Linked DNA regions of Homo sapiens. The protein of the gene in region 4 binds, or shares a complex with, the protein of the main gene of each other region. Each region holds a gene or a part of one and is shown on either strand. Other genes may lie near its edges.

Evidence for each region.
Region 1: PPP4C (region 4) and PPP4R1 share a complex: the UniProt entries of both Homo sapiens proteins name them as parts of the PP4 complex.
Region 2: PPP4C (region 4) and PPP4R3A share a complex: the UniProt entries of both Homo sapiens proteins name them as parts of the PP4 complex.
Region 3: PPP4C (region 4) and PPP4R2 share a complex: the UniProt entries of both Homo sapiens proteins name them as parts of the PP4 complex.

The regions. Positions count from the first base shown.
Region 1 is NC_000018.10:9,604,101-9,608,193, forward strand, and holds part of PPP4R1 (serine/threonine-protein phosphatase 4 regulatory subunit 1), read right to left. Parts: intron 1-4,093. UniProt on the Homo sapiens protein: Regulatory subunit of serine/threonine-protein phosphatase 4. May play a role in regulation of cell division in renal glomeruli. The PPP4C-PPP4R1 PP4 complex may play a role in dephosphorylation and regulation of HDAC3.
Region 2 is NC_000014.9:91,471,718-91,475,810, reverse strand, and holds part of PPP4R3A (serine/threonine-protein phosphatase 4 regulatory subunit 3A), read left to right. Parts: intron 1-2,440; coding exon 2,441-2,572; intron 2,573-2,675; coding exon 2,676-2,778; intron 2,779-4,093. UniProt on the Homo sapiens protein: Regulatory subunit of serine/threonine-protein phosphatase 4. May regulate the activity of PPP4C at centrosomal microtubule organizing centers.
Region 3 is NC_000003.12:72,999,528-73,003,620, forward strand, and holds part of PPP4R2 (serine/threonine-protein phosphatase 4 regulatory subunit 2), read left to right. Parts: intron 1-4,093. UniProt on the Homo sapiens protein: Regulatory subunit of serine/threonine-protein phosphatase 4 (PP4). May regulate the activity of PPP4C at centrosomal microtubule organizing centers.
Region 4 is NC_000016.10:30,082,045-30,086,079, forward strand, and holds the end of PPP4C (serine/threonine-protein phosphatase 4 catalytic subunit), read left to right. Parts: intron 1-439; coding exon 440-490; intron 491-701; coding exon 702-803; intron 804-1,349; coding exon 1,350-1,523; intron 1,524-1,610; coding exon 1,611-1,737; intron 1,738-2,621; coding exon 2,622-2,811; intron 2,812-2,888; coding exon 2,889-3,018; 3' UTR 3,019-3,332; downstream 3,333-4,035. UniProt on the Homo sapiens protein: Protein phosphatase that is involved in many processes such as microtubule organization at centrosomes, maturation of spliceosomal snRNPs, apoptosis, DNA repair, tumor necrosis factor (TNF)-alpha signaling, activation of c-Jun N-terminal kinase MAPK8, regulation of histone acetylation, DNA damage checkpoint signaling, NF-kappa-B activation and cell migration.

The DNA.
Region 1 (4,093 bases), on a different chromosome or scaffold from region 4:
TAGAAATATATCCTTTGCAAATATGGAAATTTTATGGAGAAAATTTTGAATGTCAACTTTAAAATACATGATACAGAGTTTTCAAAATTATTTTAGTAGGTATGCAGTAATAAAGTTTAAAGACCACGGTCCTAGACTGTTATTAACATAATTGCCTGGATCCATCTACTCCCAGCCTCCCCTCATTCGAATCCAGTTTATATATCAGCACCACTTCAATCTTCCCACTCTGTTCAATAGATGCCCTTGCACGCCCTCCCTCCCAATCCCTACCATTCCACCCCCTGATAAGCCTCCCAGGCAGTCTGAATTAAGGTACAACTTTCTTTCTCATGCTGTAATTCAAGGGTGTCCAGGATCTGGCCCCAACCTAGTTTCCTCCTCTGTACACAGCCCATGTGGAGTCAATTTGCTGCAACATGCCCCACTACTTTTCTGTCTTATGTGGTTTCATCTGTTCCATTTCTGTCCTCTCTAACCTCATCTCAGCTTAAATTTACCTATTACTAACAACACCCAGGAGGCATTTTCTATTTTCTAATTAAGAGTTCTTCCTTTTAATTCCCTGCCGTCTTGGGTGCCCTTGCTTTTACTCCACCAATAATTGCAAAGTATTTTTCCTTTTTTTCATATTCTCCTACCTTCCCTTCTCCTCTCCCTCCCCAACATATATAAATTCCCTAAAGATTGTCTTGCTAAACTTTTCATTATCTAAAAAACAGAGTCCAATGCTTCTCATGGAGGCACATTCATTAATATTTGTTAATGAAAATGTAGTCCATAGGGATAATTGATAAGTCAAGAGTTTACTATACTTTATCCTTCTCTAAGATATTCACAAGCACATTAGCATATTAATACCTTGAGAAGTATCACACCAAAGAGAACTTTTTAATTCGTACAAACTTTTATCAAAATTGATCAAAACACCCTTCTATTCTCTACATAATCTCTAATAATGTAACGTAAAACATAAAAAAGCTCATAGTCTATCCTTCCCTTCAGTTTTTCCCTAGATACTGCTCAGGCCACAATAAATCGGCCACATTTTGTTTCCCATCTTTACATTTTAGAAAATGAAAGACAATGAGATACACCACAGAATGAGTTACCTTATAAAGATTTGGGGCTTTAAAATTATATTTTAACAAATAAATATACCAACAAATGAATAGGGAGGAAGATCAGGCTCTTCTATAAAGCAGAATGTCAGCTAGTAAATGCAATTAATTCAGGCAAGAATCATCAACACATTCTAACACTAAATGGGTAAATGTTTGGAAACAGGGTATTTCCCCATTGTCAAACTATTTCCTTACTAATTACAATAGGAAAAACAGAATCTTTACAGTGGAGCAATTTGATAGACATCACCTCCACACTACCAGTAATGGACACTGCTATCAGGTGCTCCTTAATCTGAAGCACTGAGAAAACTACACTATCACTTATGTAGCAGTCCTGTCAAAAAAAAAAAAAAAAAAAAAAAAAAAAAGGAAAGAATAACCTGAATCAAATCATGAGGAAACAGATAAAACCAAATGGACTCTTCAAAAATGTCAATTTCATGAATGCTAAAGGCTGAGAAATTGTTCCAAACTAGTAAGTTTGTAAGTAATGTCCTTACAGCAAAAGACAGTTGCCATAAGGACATTACTGGGGATATTTCAATATGTACTACATACTATATAACAGGATTGTAGCAATGTTAAATTTCCCAAATTTCATTACTATGATTGTAAAAGTGCCCTTGTTCTTAGGAGACACAGGCTAAAGGTCCCAATGACCACAACCTATTTTCAAAGGTACACCAAAAAATTACATTACATTGTGTGTGTGTACATAACTGTATAGAGAAGTAACGAGCAAACTGGCAAAATGTTAACAGCTTAATTCAGGTGAAGAGTTGGGAATTCATTACAATATCTGTGCAGCTTTTGTATAGGTCTGAAAGTTTTCAAAATAACAAGTTTAATTAAAAATAATTTCATTATTTGACCCCAAATTAGGTTTACGGTCTTATTTAGCTTGGTGTGAAACATCAAGATTCATTCAATACTTATTCTACATTAAGCACTGATGAGATGTATTGCTGAACACTGTGTGATGAGTCAAGAATAAAAATGTTACAGACCTTGGATTTTATAGCACAGTGAAGGGGTTGGCCAACTACAGCCAGCGAGCCAAACTGGCCCACCTTCTGTTTTCGTAAATAAAATTTTATTGGATGACACTTACTTTCATTCATTTCTGTATTGTCATGGCTGCTTTTACCTTACAACAGCAGATCTGAGTAGCTGCAACAAAGATCATATGGTCCACAAAACCTAAACTATTTAATATTTGGCCTTTTACAGGGACCATACAACATAATCTTTATAGTCTCCAGCAACAGGTATGTCAAACTTTAATTTTGTACTTTGCAATAATATAAATAATGTTTATCAGAAACCCTTCCTTCAAATATCAATACTAAAAGCTTACTAAATCCTTAGAAATGCAAAATTGTCCTATAGCACAACTGAATTTAAGGCAAGAATAATTTGCTGAAGTATACTATATGTATATTCATATATGTATTTATATTTATATATATACACCATATGTATAATGTATTTCTATTTATATAATACAGTAGTGGCATGTTTATCTAGTTTCAAGTTAGTTACCAAGATTATGTATACAAACAGTATTTAACAGAAAGGTAGTATAACAAAGCACTTGCTCTGACATACACTTGTGGATCTCCCAAATATTATAGATATTTGTTCCCTTCAGTGAGTAAAAATTTTCTTTGCACTCTTAACGCAATTACTTTGGTAGTAACCTTTTTTCCCACAGGTAATCCAAATACAAAATTTGAACTAACTCAGGTCCAAATTGCCACCAATCTTAAATAAATGAAGTATTGAATAAATGAGTTATTTCTATCAAAAATGAATTTCATAGATTTAAATATAAAAGTGATCTACATCAGGCTGGGTGCAGTGGCTCACACCTGTAATTCCAGCACTTTGGGAGGCCAAGACAGGTGGATTGCTTGAGCTCAGGAGCTCAAGGCCAGCCTAGACAACATGGCAAAACCCCATCTCTACCAAAAATACAAAAAAATTAGCCAGGCGTGGTGGTGCAGGCCTGTGGTCCCAGCTACTTGGTAAGCTGAGGTGGGAGGATTACTTGAGTCCGGGAAGCAGACGTTGCAGTGAGCCAAGATAGTGCCATTACACTCCAGCCTGGGCAACAGAGCCAGACCCTGTCTCAAAAAAAAAAAAACAAAAACAGAAACATGGATAAATGAAAGTCAAAACCGAGTAGTAGAGACATGATGGTCCATCTGCCTTTGTATATGTCTTAAGTATCTGTAATATATAACGAACTCTCAAAATTTAATAAGAAAATGTCCCAATGAAAAGATGAGCAAAAGATGTGAAAAGGCACTTCACCAAAGGAGATAAGTTAGATGGCAAATGAGCACATAAAAAGAGTAACATAATTAGCCATTAATGCAAATTCAAGCCACAAATTAATACTATTATACATTTAATAAGAGTGGCTAAAATTAAGACTGCTCACACTAAGTGTTGACAATGATGATGAGGACCTGGAACTCTCATACACTTTTGGTGGGAATGGAAAATGATATAACCACTTTGGAAAACAGTTTGGCAGTTTTTCTTTCTTTCTTTTTTTTTTTTTTTTTTTGGATGGAGTTTCGCTCGTTGCCCAGGCTGGAGTGCAATGATGCAATCTCGGCTCACTGCAACCTCTGCCTCCCAGGTTCAAGTGATTCTCCTGCCTCAGCCTCCCGAGTAGCTAGGATTACAGGCATGCACCACCACGCCCAGCTAATTCTTTGTATTTTTAATAGAGACGGGGTTTCACCATGTTGGCCAGGCTGGTCTTGAACTCCTGATCTCGGGTGATCCACCCGCCTCGTTCTCCCAAAGTGCTGGGATTACAGGCATAAGCCACCGCACCGGGCTGGCAGTTTCTTAAAAAGTTAAACAGCCATTCTACTTCTAGATGTATACCCAAGAGAAAGAACATATATATTCACACAGACTTGTGTGTGAATGTTCATAGCAGCTTTATT
Region 2 (4,093 bases), on a different chromosome or scaffold from region 4:
GTAAATATTATTTGTACTAATAGTAAGTATTTATACATAGGAAGCTATAACTGTTTTTATTATTCACTTTTAAGATTTAATTGTTGCTGTTTGGGAAAAGTGTAGCCATAATATCAGACAGCTTATTGTTCCCCTAAATTGGTTCCTGTCTCAGTTTATCAATTTGTCCTACAGCAACTATTTATGTTCATTTAAATTGCCTTTTAAAATATTCATGTCAGTTTTTTTTTGTTTTGTTTTGTTTTAATTCTGAAGTCAACTTGCTATATTGTGTTTTTTAAATCATTTAGTCAATCAATTCTTGTATCTGGGGAATTAAGAGTAAGTTACCTAGGAAAACATTGACTTTAGGGTAGATTCTCAAAATCGCCAAGAATGAAGAAATGTAGCACAGTCCCTTAAAATATGAAGGGTGCTGTTTCTTTACTGCCTAGCCATAGAGAACAAGCTGTTACGTTGTTCACAAACACTCACGTTAGCATCTGAGATATACCAGATTTTAAAGTAGTAGAGAATATATCCTGGTAATGTGAAGGGTGCGCCTGGATCACATAGTGCGTGACATGTGAGAGCACTAAATGTGTGTGCTCTCCTTTATTTTAAAATAATTGAACCAATGATTCTGATTTTTTCCTGCTTCCCCCATAACAATTTGGAAGCAACTTTTTACGTAAGAATGAGTAAGAAGGACCTGCTCTCAGGTCCTTCTTAAGGGAGGAGGGGAATAAAGATCCCCTAAGGAAAAAAAAAAAATCTGTTTAGAATTCCAGCCTGTGGTATTTTTACGAAATAGGAAAATAGACTGTCTTACTTTTTGAAAAGATCCTATTTAATGTATTGTGATGTCAAAAGGAAATGGAATGCCATGTAACTGCTATGTTTAAGTTTTTATTTTTATAGTGCAGGATAGGTGCAAAAAAGCACCAGTTTGAACTGTTGTGTCATGTTTTTCTTTTATAAAATATTAACATCGGCCTCAGCAACATAGCAAGACCCTCCTTTAGTACAAAATTAATTTTTAAAACTTAGATATGGTGGCATGCACCCATAGTCCCAGATACTCAGGAGGATGAGAAGGAAGAGTCTCTTAAGACCAGGAGTTTGACTCTGCAGTGAGCTATGATTGCTCCACTGCACTCCAGTCTGGGTGACGAAGCCAGACCCCATCTCAAAAAAAAAAAAAAATTCTTTGAGAACCAAAGTATCTGTATTATTGAAAATAAAGGCTATTGTTGGTCCCATTAACCCATGAGCTGAACATATGAACATGTATTGATATACCTCAAAATACACACAGTAGGACTCTTTTTTTTTCCTGTTTTGCAACAGAATAACATTTCAGTCACTAGGACTCTTGATTCCCACTCTTCTTAATCATCATTTCCATCTACTGTCTGCATTTTCTCTATCCCTTGTCCATCCTGCCTTTGCATACACATAGGCAAGAGCAGGGATTTTCTCACTGAATCCCTCTCAATCTTATTTACTACTTAGGTGAGGAATACCAGTCATAATAGGACCTCAGGAAAACCAGCCATCTCTTTTCTTTGATATTTAGAATGTGTATAATCCATTTGTTCTCTGCACTCTCTAAATACCATAGTCTCATTTTCTCCAATTTCAGACATTCAGATAATTTTTTCCTAAATTTATTTTAAAAGGAAATTTTATATCACTTTTACAAATGGAGAACATACATCACTGGCCATAAATAGAAGGACTCTATAATAATAAAAGCAATAGACCAGGCACGGTGGCTCACGCCTGTAATCCCAGCACTTTGGGAGGCTGAGGCAGGCGGATCACCTGAGGTAGGGAGTTCAAGACTAGCCTGACGATCATGGAGAAACCCCGTCTCTACTAAAAATACAAAATTAGCCGGGCATGGTGGTGCATGCCTGTAATCCCAGCTACTAGGGAGGCTGAGGCAGGAGAATCGCTTGAACCCGGGAGGTGGAGGTTAGTAAGACGAGATCGTGCCATTGCACTCCAGCCTGGGCAACAAGAGGCAAACTCCGTCTCAAAAAAATAAAATAAAAATAAAAGCAACGAAAGTATTATGATGTTCTAAATCCTACCTAAATATTCTTACTCTTAAAGCTATGGTCATAAAACCCACTGGCTTTCTTCAAAAGGTAGATTACATTATTAGAAAGTTGTAAAGATATATTATCACCAAACTAAAACTTTGCTTTTGCTTTATTCAGAGGAATTTAAAGATAATAGACAAGAAATTTCTATTTAGGGCTATGTCCCTGTACCACACTTTAGGGAATGAAACACTGTCATATGTCCTGTCAGATAACTGAGTTAAACATTTCACTTTGCAGTTAACAAAACAGCTAGAGCCTAGGTATAATGCTGTGGTATGTGTCTTAGTTTTTGCTTTTTCCGTTCTCTCATAATAAGTGATCCTGAGTATGTCTATTTTTCTCTCCAGGATATTTTGCTCATCAACCTCATTATAGAACATATGATTTGTGATACAGATCCTGAACTTGGAGGAGCAGTCCAGCTTATGGGCCTGCTTCGAACTTTAGTTGACCCAGAGAACATGCTAGCCACTGCCAATGTAAGCCATGAGCATTTCCCCTCTTTTTCATAGCTAGTATATTGTGTATTGCTGGTAGGAACCAGTGTGGTTAAAGTTCATGGAATTGTTCTTGTTTCCTTAGAAAACAGAAAAGACTGAATTTCTGGGTTTCTTCTACAAGCACTGTATGCATGTTCTCACTGCTCCTTTACTAGCAAATACAACAGAAGACAAACCTAGTAAAGGTAAGATAATTCAGGTTGGTAGTTAAGTTCTCTGTTCTTGAATGCTGAATTCAAAGTTGGTGTTAAGTCAGTCTTTTTAGGAGGCAGTTAGTGGGAGGTAGAGGCTGGGAGGACACACCTTTTAAAAAGTAGTAGTCTTTAAAAGTTCAAACCATCAGGTTAACATAGAGGTCTTAATAATTTGGTTGGTTGGTTGGTTGGTTGGTTGTTTTTATCAAAAGCAACCTGGAGAATTAATGATGTATTTTGAAAAGAAAGGTTCATGACAAAAATGTCCCTAAAAGGCCTGTAATCCCAGCACTTTGGGAGGCCAAGGCAAGCGGATCATGAGGTCAGGAGATCGAGACCATCCTGGCTAACACGGTGAAACCCCATCTCTACTAAAAAAATACAAAAAAAATTTAGCTGGGCGTGGTGGCAGGTGCCTTGTGGTCCCAGCTACTGGGGAGGCTGAGGCAGGAGAATGGCGTGAACCCAGGAGGCGGAGCTTGCAGTGAGCCGAGGTCGCCCCACTGCACTCCATCCAGCCTGGGCGACAGAGTGAGACTTCAACTCAAAAAAAAAAAAAAAAAAACAATTTTCCTGAAAGTACTGTAATCAGATAACAGAAACATGTAAAAGAAATAAGATAATTTTTTGTTGAACAATATTTGTATTCAGTTTGCATCTACACTGGTGAAATATAAATAGAAGGCAGTAGCTATGAAAAAATTCATTTTAAATTATTTGTACTCCAGATGTATAGACAGAGCTAGGATTTTTGCACAATATTAAGCTACTTTTATTTATATTGAAGATATGTTAAGGTTTGTTATTTTTGTATTATATTCATTAGAGCTTTAGCGTGCGTGTGCGTGTGTTTAATTTAGGAGGTAGTTTTAGGTCTACATTCAAAAATTGCTTATTTAAGCTTTAGGAGTAAATACATTATTTTGTCATTGGAATTTTTTTTTTTTTTTTTTTTTTTGGAGACAGAATCTTGCTCTGTTGCCCAGGCTGGAGTGTGGTGGCGGGATCTCGGCTCACTGCAACCTCTGCCTCCCAGGTTTGAGCAATTCTCCTGCCCCAGCCTTCTGAGTAACTGGGATTACAGGCACCTGCCACCATGCCTGGCTAATTTTTATATTTTTAGTAGAGGCAGGGTTTTCACCATGTTGGCCGGGCTGGTCTCAAACTCCTGGCCTCAAGTGATCTGCCCACCTTGGCCTCCCAAAGTGCTGGGATTATAGGTGTGAGCCACCACGCCCAGCCTTGAATTCTTAATATAGCATAATTATAGCACTCACATAAAACACAAGTTAAATTTACTTTTTGT
Region 3 (4,093 bases), on a different chromosome or scaffold from region 4:
TTTGGAGATGAGTACTTAAAACGTCTTACTCAGTTTATCAGGTTTGTACACACTGCTTTCCCTTTTTGATAAAGTACATTGCCTATAAATGTATAAATAATTGAAAGTTTCTAAAAGATAGCTTTTTAATATCCTGTCTTACTGGAACACCAAGTGGCTGGGGAAGTTATCTGATTTTTTTTGGACAGTTATTTTATCCTGGTAGAAGAGGACTTAAAATTCCCAATCCTCCACCCCATATTCGGTGTTTATGTATTCACTAAGCATGTTTTGTACTGAAATGATTGGTGTAGTTAGATTCTTATATTCAATGGAATTTGGAAAATATTTTTTATTTTATTATGTAAATAGCAGCCAGTGTTTATGCATTTAGCTTTAAGCTTTGATTTCTTTTTATCAACATGGCATATCTTTGATACTGACATTTGCAGAGTTTCTGCTACCTATTTATGGCTAAACTAAGCTTTGTCTAGTATGTGAGATTGTAACGAGAGAATGAAAATGAAAATTTAAAGAACAGCAATTTAGACTTTTCTGATGTTTTAGGATGGGTGGATTGCTTAAGATAAGCATTTCCACCGGATGTGGTGGCTCATGCCTGTATCTCAGCACTTTGGGAAACAGTGGGTCACTTGAGCTCAGGACAAAAAATTTAAGTTACCTGAGTGTGTTGGTACATGCCTATAGTCCCAGCTTCTCCAGAGGCTGAGGCAGAAGGATTGTTGGAATGTGGGAGGTTGAGGCTGCAGTGAGCCATGATGGTTGGTGCCACTGTACTGCAGCCTGAGTGACAGAGTGAGACTCTGTCTCAAAAAAAAATTTCATAGTTGTTTTTATTTTCACTGATGCATTATAGCAAGAAAGCATTAACAGAAGTAGTATGTGAAACTGTTTATGGATCAAAATCAGTGACCCCCCAGGCTGCTTAGTTTTCTTTTCAAAAGACAATTGATTTGACACTTGCTTTTAGCTTTAGAGAGGTTTTAGAATTGTAAGTATAGGCTTTTACAATGGAGGAGGTTGTAGGAAAAATGGAGGAGGCCGTAGGAAAAATTTGAACATTTTTACTTCTTAGTCTATTAAAATTACCTGTAAACATCTGATGTAGGAAGTTAGGAAAGATGCCAAGACATACTAAATTGATGTGAAGAGGGAAACTATATATGTATATAACTAAAATAATTAATCCCCAGGTGAATTGTTTCTGGCCACTTCAAAAAATTGTTTTTATGTTGGAAAGAATACACTCTTCTGAAGGTAATGTAGTTTCTGACATCATGCTAAATATATAGTATGCGCTGAATAAACAGGAACATATGGTGTGTTTCAATCATGAATTTAAACACTTGATGCATTTCAGTCATGGATTTAAAGGTATTTGATGGGTTTGAGTTGCAATTATTATCCTTTTTGACGGTCAAGTTGTCTCCCATTTGGTCAGTGGTAGCCTTTTCCAGTTGGCTCCAGAGTCCTTTTGACGTGACCTTAGTAGTTTTTGATAGTATCCTTATTCTCTGGTATAAGAATATGTTCCAAGCTCATTTCCTGCCCCAGATGTGAATCAGATATTTCTCAAGAAGACCTGCCTTTTAGTGGGAAATGGCATTTCAAGACTACAATCTTGGTGGTAGAGAAGTTTATTATTACTCAGCTACATAAAATACTAAGACTTGCAATTCAGAATGAGGAATACAGCGTTTTAAAAAGTTTTTTTTTTGTTTAGGTAAAATATACTTATATAATTTACTGGCCAGGTGCAGTGATTCATGTCTGTAATCCCAGAACTTTGAGAGGCTGAGGCAGGTGGCCCAGGGTCACTTGAGCCCAGGAGTTCGAGACCAGCCTGGGCAACATGGTGAAACCCGTCTTTACAAAAAATATAAAAAATTAGCCTAACGTGGTGGCATGCGCCTGTAGTCCCAGCTACTCCCAGCTACTTGGGAGGAGGAGGTAGGAGGATCACCTGAGCCTGGGAGGTTGAGGCTGCAGTGAGCCGTGATTGTGCCACAGCACTCCAGTCTGGGCAACAGAGTAAGACCTTGTCTCAAACACACACATGCACACTTGCACACTTATGTAATTTACCATCTTTACCATTTTAGTTTTCTTTCTTCTTTTTTTTTATTTTTTTGAGATGGAGTCTCGCCCTATGCCACACTGGATCGTAGTGGCGCGATCTCGGCTCACTTCATCCCCCACCTCCTGAGTTCAAGCGATTCTCCTGCCTCAGCCTCCTGAGTAGCTGGGACTACAGGCACACACAACTAATTATTGTGTTTTTAGTAGAGACAGGGTTTCACCATGTTGGCCAGGATGATCTCTATCTCTTGACCTCGTGATCCACCTGCCTTGGCCTCCCAAACTGCTGGGATTACAGGCGTGAACCATCGCCCCCGGCCCCATCTTTAGCATTTTAAGTGTACAGTTTGGTGGTAATAAATACATGTATATTCTTTTTTCTCCCCTTTTATCTCTCCTGTTCCTTGCTCAGTCTCTAGTAATCATCAGTCTTTAGACTCTTACCTTTGTGAGATCCACTGTTGTAGCTCCCACATATGTGAAAACGTGATGTTTGTCTTTCTGTGCTTGACTTAACTTCACTTAACATAATGGCCTATAGTTCCATCCATGTTGTTGCAAATGACAGGATCTAATTCTTTTTTATTGCTGAATAATATACCACATTTTCTTTTCCATTGATGGGAACTCAGGTTGGTTCCTTGTTTTAAAAAAATGTATTTTTGAGGCAAGGTCTTGCTGTTGCCCAGGCTTTAGTGCAGCAACTCAGTCATAGCTCACTGCAACCTCAAACTCTTAGGCTCAAGGGATCCTCTTGCCTCAGCCTCCTGAATAGCTAGGACTTACAGATAGGGTACATGCCACGATGCCTGGCTAATTTATAATTTTTTTTGTAGAGACAAAGTCTTGCTATGTTGCCTAGGCTGATCTCCAACTCCTGGCCTTAAGCAATCCTCCCAGAGTGCAAAGATTACAAAGCATGAGCCATTGCACTGAGCTGGTTTCATATTTTGGCTGTTGTGAATAGTGCTGCAGTAAACATGGGAGTGCACAGGGATTTTTCTTTTCTTTTCTTTTCTTTTCTTTTCTTTTTTTTTTTTTTTTTTTTTTTTTGAGACGGAGTCTCGCTCTGTCACCCAGGCTGGAGTGCAGTGGCGCGATCTCGGCTCGCTACAACCTCTGCCTCCTGGGTTCAAGCGATTTTCCTGCCTCAGCCTCGTGAGTAGCTGGGATTACAGGCATGCGCCACCACGCCTGGCTAATTTTTTTGTATTTTTAGTAGAGATGGGGTTTCACTGTGTTAGCCAGGATGGTCTCGATCTCCTGACCTCGTGATCCATCCACCTTGGCCTCCCAAAGTGCTGGGATTACAGGTGTGAACCACTGCGCCTGGCCCAGGGTTTTTATAACTTTTTGCATACCAGGAATCCTGGTTCTCTCAAGAACACAGGCAGGGTATGATAGAATCAGGATGTCTTGTAATTACTGATTGTAACCAACATTACACATCAGAAAGTCTAAAATAATAATGCGAATATTACTGCCACCAATATAATTACTAGGAATGTTAAATTTTTTTTTTTTTACATATTCTCTATTTCTAGCCCCCATTTAAAAGTTTTTCTGTCTCCCTTGTCTGAGCATATTGCTATTACGTAACTTTCCCTTTTGTTTTTTTTTTTTGAGACAGAGTCTCACTCTGTTGCCCAGGCTGGAGTGCAGTGGTGCGATCACAGCTCACCGCAACCTCTGCCTCTTGGGTTCAAGTGATTCTTGTGCCTCAGCCTCCTGAGTAGCTGGGGTTACTGGCACGTGCCACCATTGCCTGGCTAATTTTTGTGTTTTTAGTAGAGACGGGGTTTCGCTGTGTTGAACAGGCTGTTCTCGAACTCCTGGCCTCAAGTGATCCTCCCCCTGCCTTTGCCTCCAAAGGTGCTGGGATTACGGGCATAGTCACTGCCCCGGCTGACTTTCCCTTTTAACTGTCAATCTTAGTTTTACAGTAGGTATATATCTCATGCCTACAACCAGTCCTTATGTCATTGTCATTGTATTCTCTCTGTCTCTCGTCAGT
Region 4 (4,035 bases):
ACTCCGTCTAAAAAAAAAAAAAAGAAAGGAAAGAAAAGAAAGGGGTTATGGGAAGGGACTTTGGATTTGTTAGTGGAGATTCTTGGCCAGGGCAGAAGGACTCCTATTTGGCGAGTGATTCTGCTCACATATCTCCAGGGCTCTGTGTTAGTAACTTGATTCTGGGTACTTTGTGGGGAGTAGAGAGAGGAAGGGGCCGGGACATCTACCTGGAAGGACTTAGTTCTAGCTCTTGCCTACAGAATAGTTGGTACTCAGCATAGGACAGTGGGTATGGTTCCAGACCAGACTGACTTGGGGTGGGAGAGGAGAATTTTGGTCCTAGGAAGTAGAAGTGCAGCCAAGAGTGATAAAGCTCACTAAAGCAGCGGGTGTTTGGAGGGTAGTCCCTGGCAACTCCCACTGCTTGAGTTCCAACCCCACTCTTCCTGTTCCCCAGGTGTGCGGCGACATCCATGGACAATTCTATGACCTCAAAGAGCTGTTCAGAGTAAGAGTGTGGCCAACACTGTGAAATGTAACGGGGGGATGACTGGAAGACCCCTGTAATTGAGGGTGGGAGCCTTAATTTGGGGCGTGGAGTGGGGGCAAGGGGCCCCAAGTTAGATGGGTGGTTGTGGAAGAAGGGCCTCCGCTGGACAGAAACAGGTAGGGGGTAGGGGACTGTTTACGACAGGGCAAAACTTTCTACTTCCCCACAGGTAGGTGGCGACGTCCCTGAGACCAACTACCTCTTCATGGGGGACTTTGTGGACCGTGGCTTCTATAGCGTCGAAACGTTCCTCCTGCTGCTGGCACTTAAGGTGGCAGTCCCCGGCTTCTGCACCCCCAACCTGGGCGACCTCGGGCCGGGCCTGTCTTAGTCCGTTCCGCCCTCATCTCCTATCGTGACCAGCCCCACCTTGGAGCTGTGTCACTGGTGATGGACCGATTCTGCTTTTGGGGGTGGTCAGAGACTTGATGGGGGTTGAGGCCAGCGGGGCAGCATTCTGGGAGGGGCAGAGGCTCACTGTTGCGAATGTGGCAGGTCATTGATGCCACTGGTGGGAGAGGCAGTGTGGGGCCAGATGACAAAGGGCCTGGGTGCCTTGCTAGGGACCCGGTCTGTGTCTGGTAGGTGAAAGAAGAGCCATTAGGTTCATAGTTGAGGGAATGGGTCAGCTTTACATTCTCTGGAGGGGTCGTGTGGGCCTGGGAGGTGGCTGATGCCACACGATTCAGGCAAGAGGTGCCAGGAGTGTGCTGGGCAGTGGTTGTGAGGATGGCAGGCTGGCGGGCACGAGGAGGTCAGAGAGGGATGTGTGGAGAGACCGTCTAGGCGCCAGCCCTGGCTTGGTGGCCACCCCCAGGTTCGCTATCCTGATCGCATCACACTGATCCGGGGCAACCATGAGAGTCGCCAGATCACGCAGGTCTATGGCTTCTACGATGAGTGCCTGCGCAAGTACGGCTCGGTGACTGTGTGGCGCTACTGCACTGAGATCTTTGACTACCTCAGCCTGTCAGCCATCATCGATGGCAAGGTAAGCCAGCCCAGGGCTCCATGGGACAGGGAGAGGAGGGGGGCTTCAGGCCTCAGCCCCGTCCTCTTTCCCTGCTCTCCCCTGTAGATCTTCTGCGTGCACGGGGGCCTCTCCCCCTCCATCCAGACCCTGGATCAGATTCGGACAATCGACCGAAAGCAAGAGGTGCCTCATGATGGGCCCATGTGTGACCTCCTCTGGTCTGACCCAGAAGGTGAGGGCATGTGGGCAGGGGCAGGCAGGGACAGCCAGGAGGGGTTGGGAAAGAGAGGGAGCAGGGCTGGTCTTCACTGTCACTCGTCCTCCACCTGCCAAATGGCTGGAACCCTGGAGGAGGAGCAGGGAGGCCTGCATGGCAGGTGCTTTGAGCACACAGTGGCTTGGGGCATGGCCCAGAGGGCTGTGGAGGACAACCAAGTCATGGCTCCCTGAAGTGAAGGGGCCTTAGAACATGACAGCAGCTTCTTCAGAGGTCAGAACCCCAGAATGGTAGCCCCCTGAGACCCCTCATTTTGTGGGTTTTCCACTAGTGTAGAGCAGAGCTGAGATTTAAAGTCAGGTCTTCTGAGGACCAGCCAGAGTTCCTGTTGTCACAGGCACACACGCACAGGCAGCCTCTGCTCCAGCGCAGACACACACACACATACACATAGCCTCTGCTCCATCACAGCCACACACACGCACACGAGGCCTCTGCTCCATCACAGCCACACACATACAGACACACACATGCAGACACACACATGCAGCCGCTGCTCCACAGTCACTCCGGACCTCCCTGTGACAACACAGGGTGCCCTTCTGTCTCTGGGAGTGCCCCTTTCACTCTTATGTGCTGTTTGGACGGGGATTGTATGATCACTGTGATTATGAGGGGGCCCCAGGCATTGGGCGTTCTTTCTCCTCTGGAGCTTATCTGCCCCTACATTTGCTGTCCTGGTCCCCGCCATCCCACAGACCATATTCAGGCCCCATGCTCTGGTCCCACGGGCCTCTGGTGGACTTGGGGAGGGGCCAGGCTGCTCACCCTCAAGGGGCAGCGCTGGCAGCCAGAGAAGCCTGAGGACATCCCTCTCCATCCCTCCCTTTCCGCATCAGACACCACAGGCTGGGGCGTGAGCCCCCGAGGAGCCGGCTACCTATTTGGCAGTGACGTGGTGGCCCAGTTCAACGCAGCCAATGACATTGACATGATCTGCCGTGCCCACCAACTGGTGATGGAAGGTTACAAGTGGCACTTCAATGAGACGGTGCTCACTGTGTGGTCGGCACCCAACTACTGCTACCGGTGAGCCGGCTGGGCCGGGCTGGGATGGGCGGGCATCTGAGCCGAGCTGCTCCTGACCCTGCTGCCCCGCCTTCCAGCTGTGGGAATGTGGCAGCCATCTTGGAGCTGGACGAGCATCTCCAGAAAGATTTCATCATCTTTGAGGCTGCTCCCCAAGAGACACGGGGCATCCCCTCCAAGAAGCCCGTGGCCGACTACTTCCTGTGACCCCGCCCGGCCCCTGCCCCCTCCAACCCTTCTGGCCCTCGCACCACTGTGACTCTGCCATCTTCCTCAGACGGAGGCTGGGCGTGGGGGGGGCTGTCCTGGCTCTGCTGTCCCCCAAGAGGGTGCTTCGAGGGTGAGGACTTCTCTGGAGAGGCCTGGAGACCTAGCTCCATGTTCCTCCTCCTCTCTCCCCACTTGAACCATGAAGTTTCCAATAATTTTTTTTTCTTTTTTTCCTTCTTTTTTCTGTTTGTTTTTAGATAAAAATTTTGAGAAAAAAAATGAAAAAATTCTAATAAAAGAAGAAAAATGGTTTTTGGGTTTGTGCCAGACTTGGTTGGGAATGCACAGGGTTGCTGGCCTGGGACCTGGGGTGGACGTCAGGGCCTTGACTGCCTCAGGGCCCCGACCTGCCAAGAGGGCCAGGCTCAGGCCAGTCAGCTTGCCCAGGGCCTCCAGGGGCCGCTGCCTGCTGGCTTCCCCAGCCCTAGGGAGAGGGCTCTGTTCTCATGGGCAGCCTTATCTTATTAACAGCATACACACACAGGCACACACAGAATCACAGGATTCTGATTTCTCCATTTTCCTGAAGAGGAGATGGGCCTAGAGGGCCAGTGGATTTTGTGCTAGGTCAGGCAGCTGGAAACACAGGTCTAGATCTGGGCCTGGGTCTCCTAGCAAAGCCTTTGCTCACCCAGCCCCGCCCAGGGCCAAACACAGGAGCCCAATGTTTCCTGAGCATGGATGGCTTTTGAGTTTTATTAACAAAAATACTCTGGTCCCAGAACAACAGACTGGTGTGGCCTGCACCAGTGTGTGTGGGGGGGTGGGGATTGAGCCCCTCCAGAGCCCATGGGGAGGCCTGGTAAGTGGGGATGCTGGTCTGTGGCCCCATTTGGCCAGGCAGAGCCCCTTCCATTCACACGGAGGTGAGAGCCGGGAAGGGGAAGCCGGCCCCAGCTGGACTCCCAGCAGCCTTGGTTAGGCTTTGAAGCCAGAGGGGGGTGGGAGTGAAAT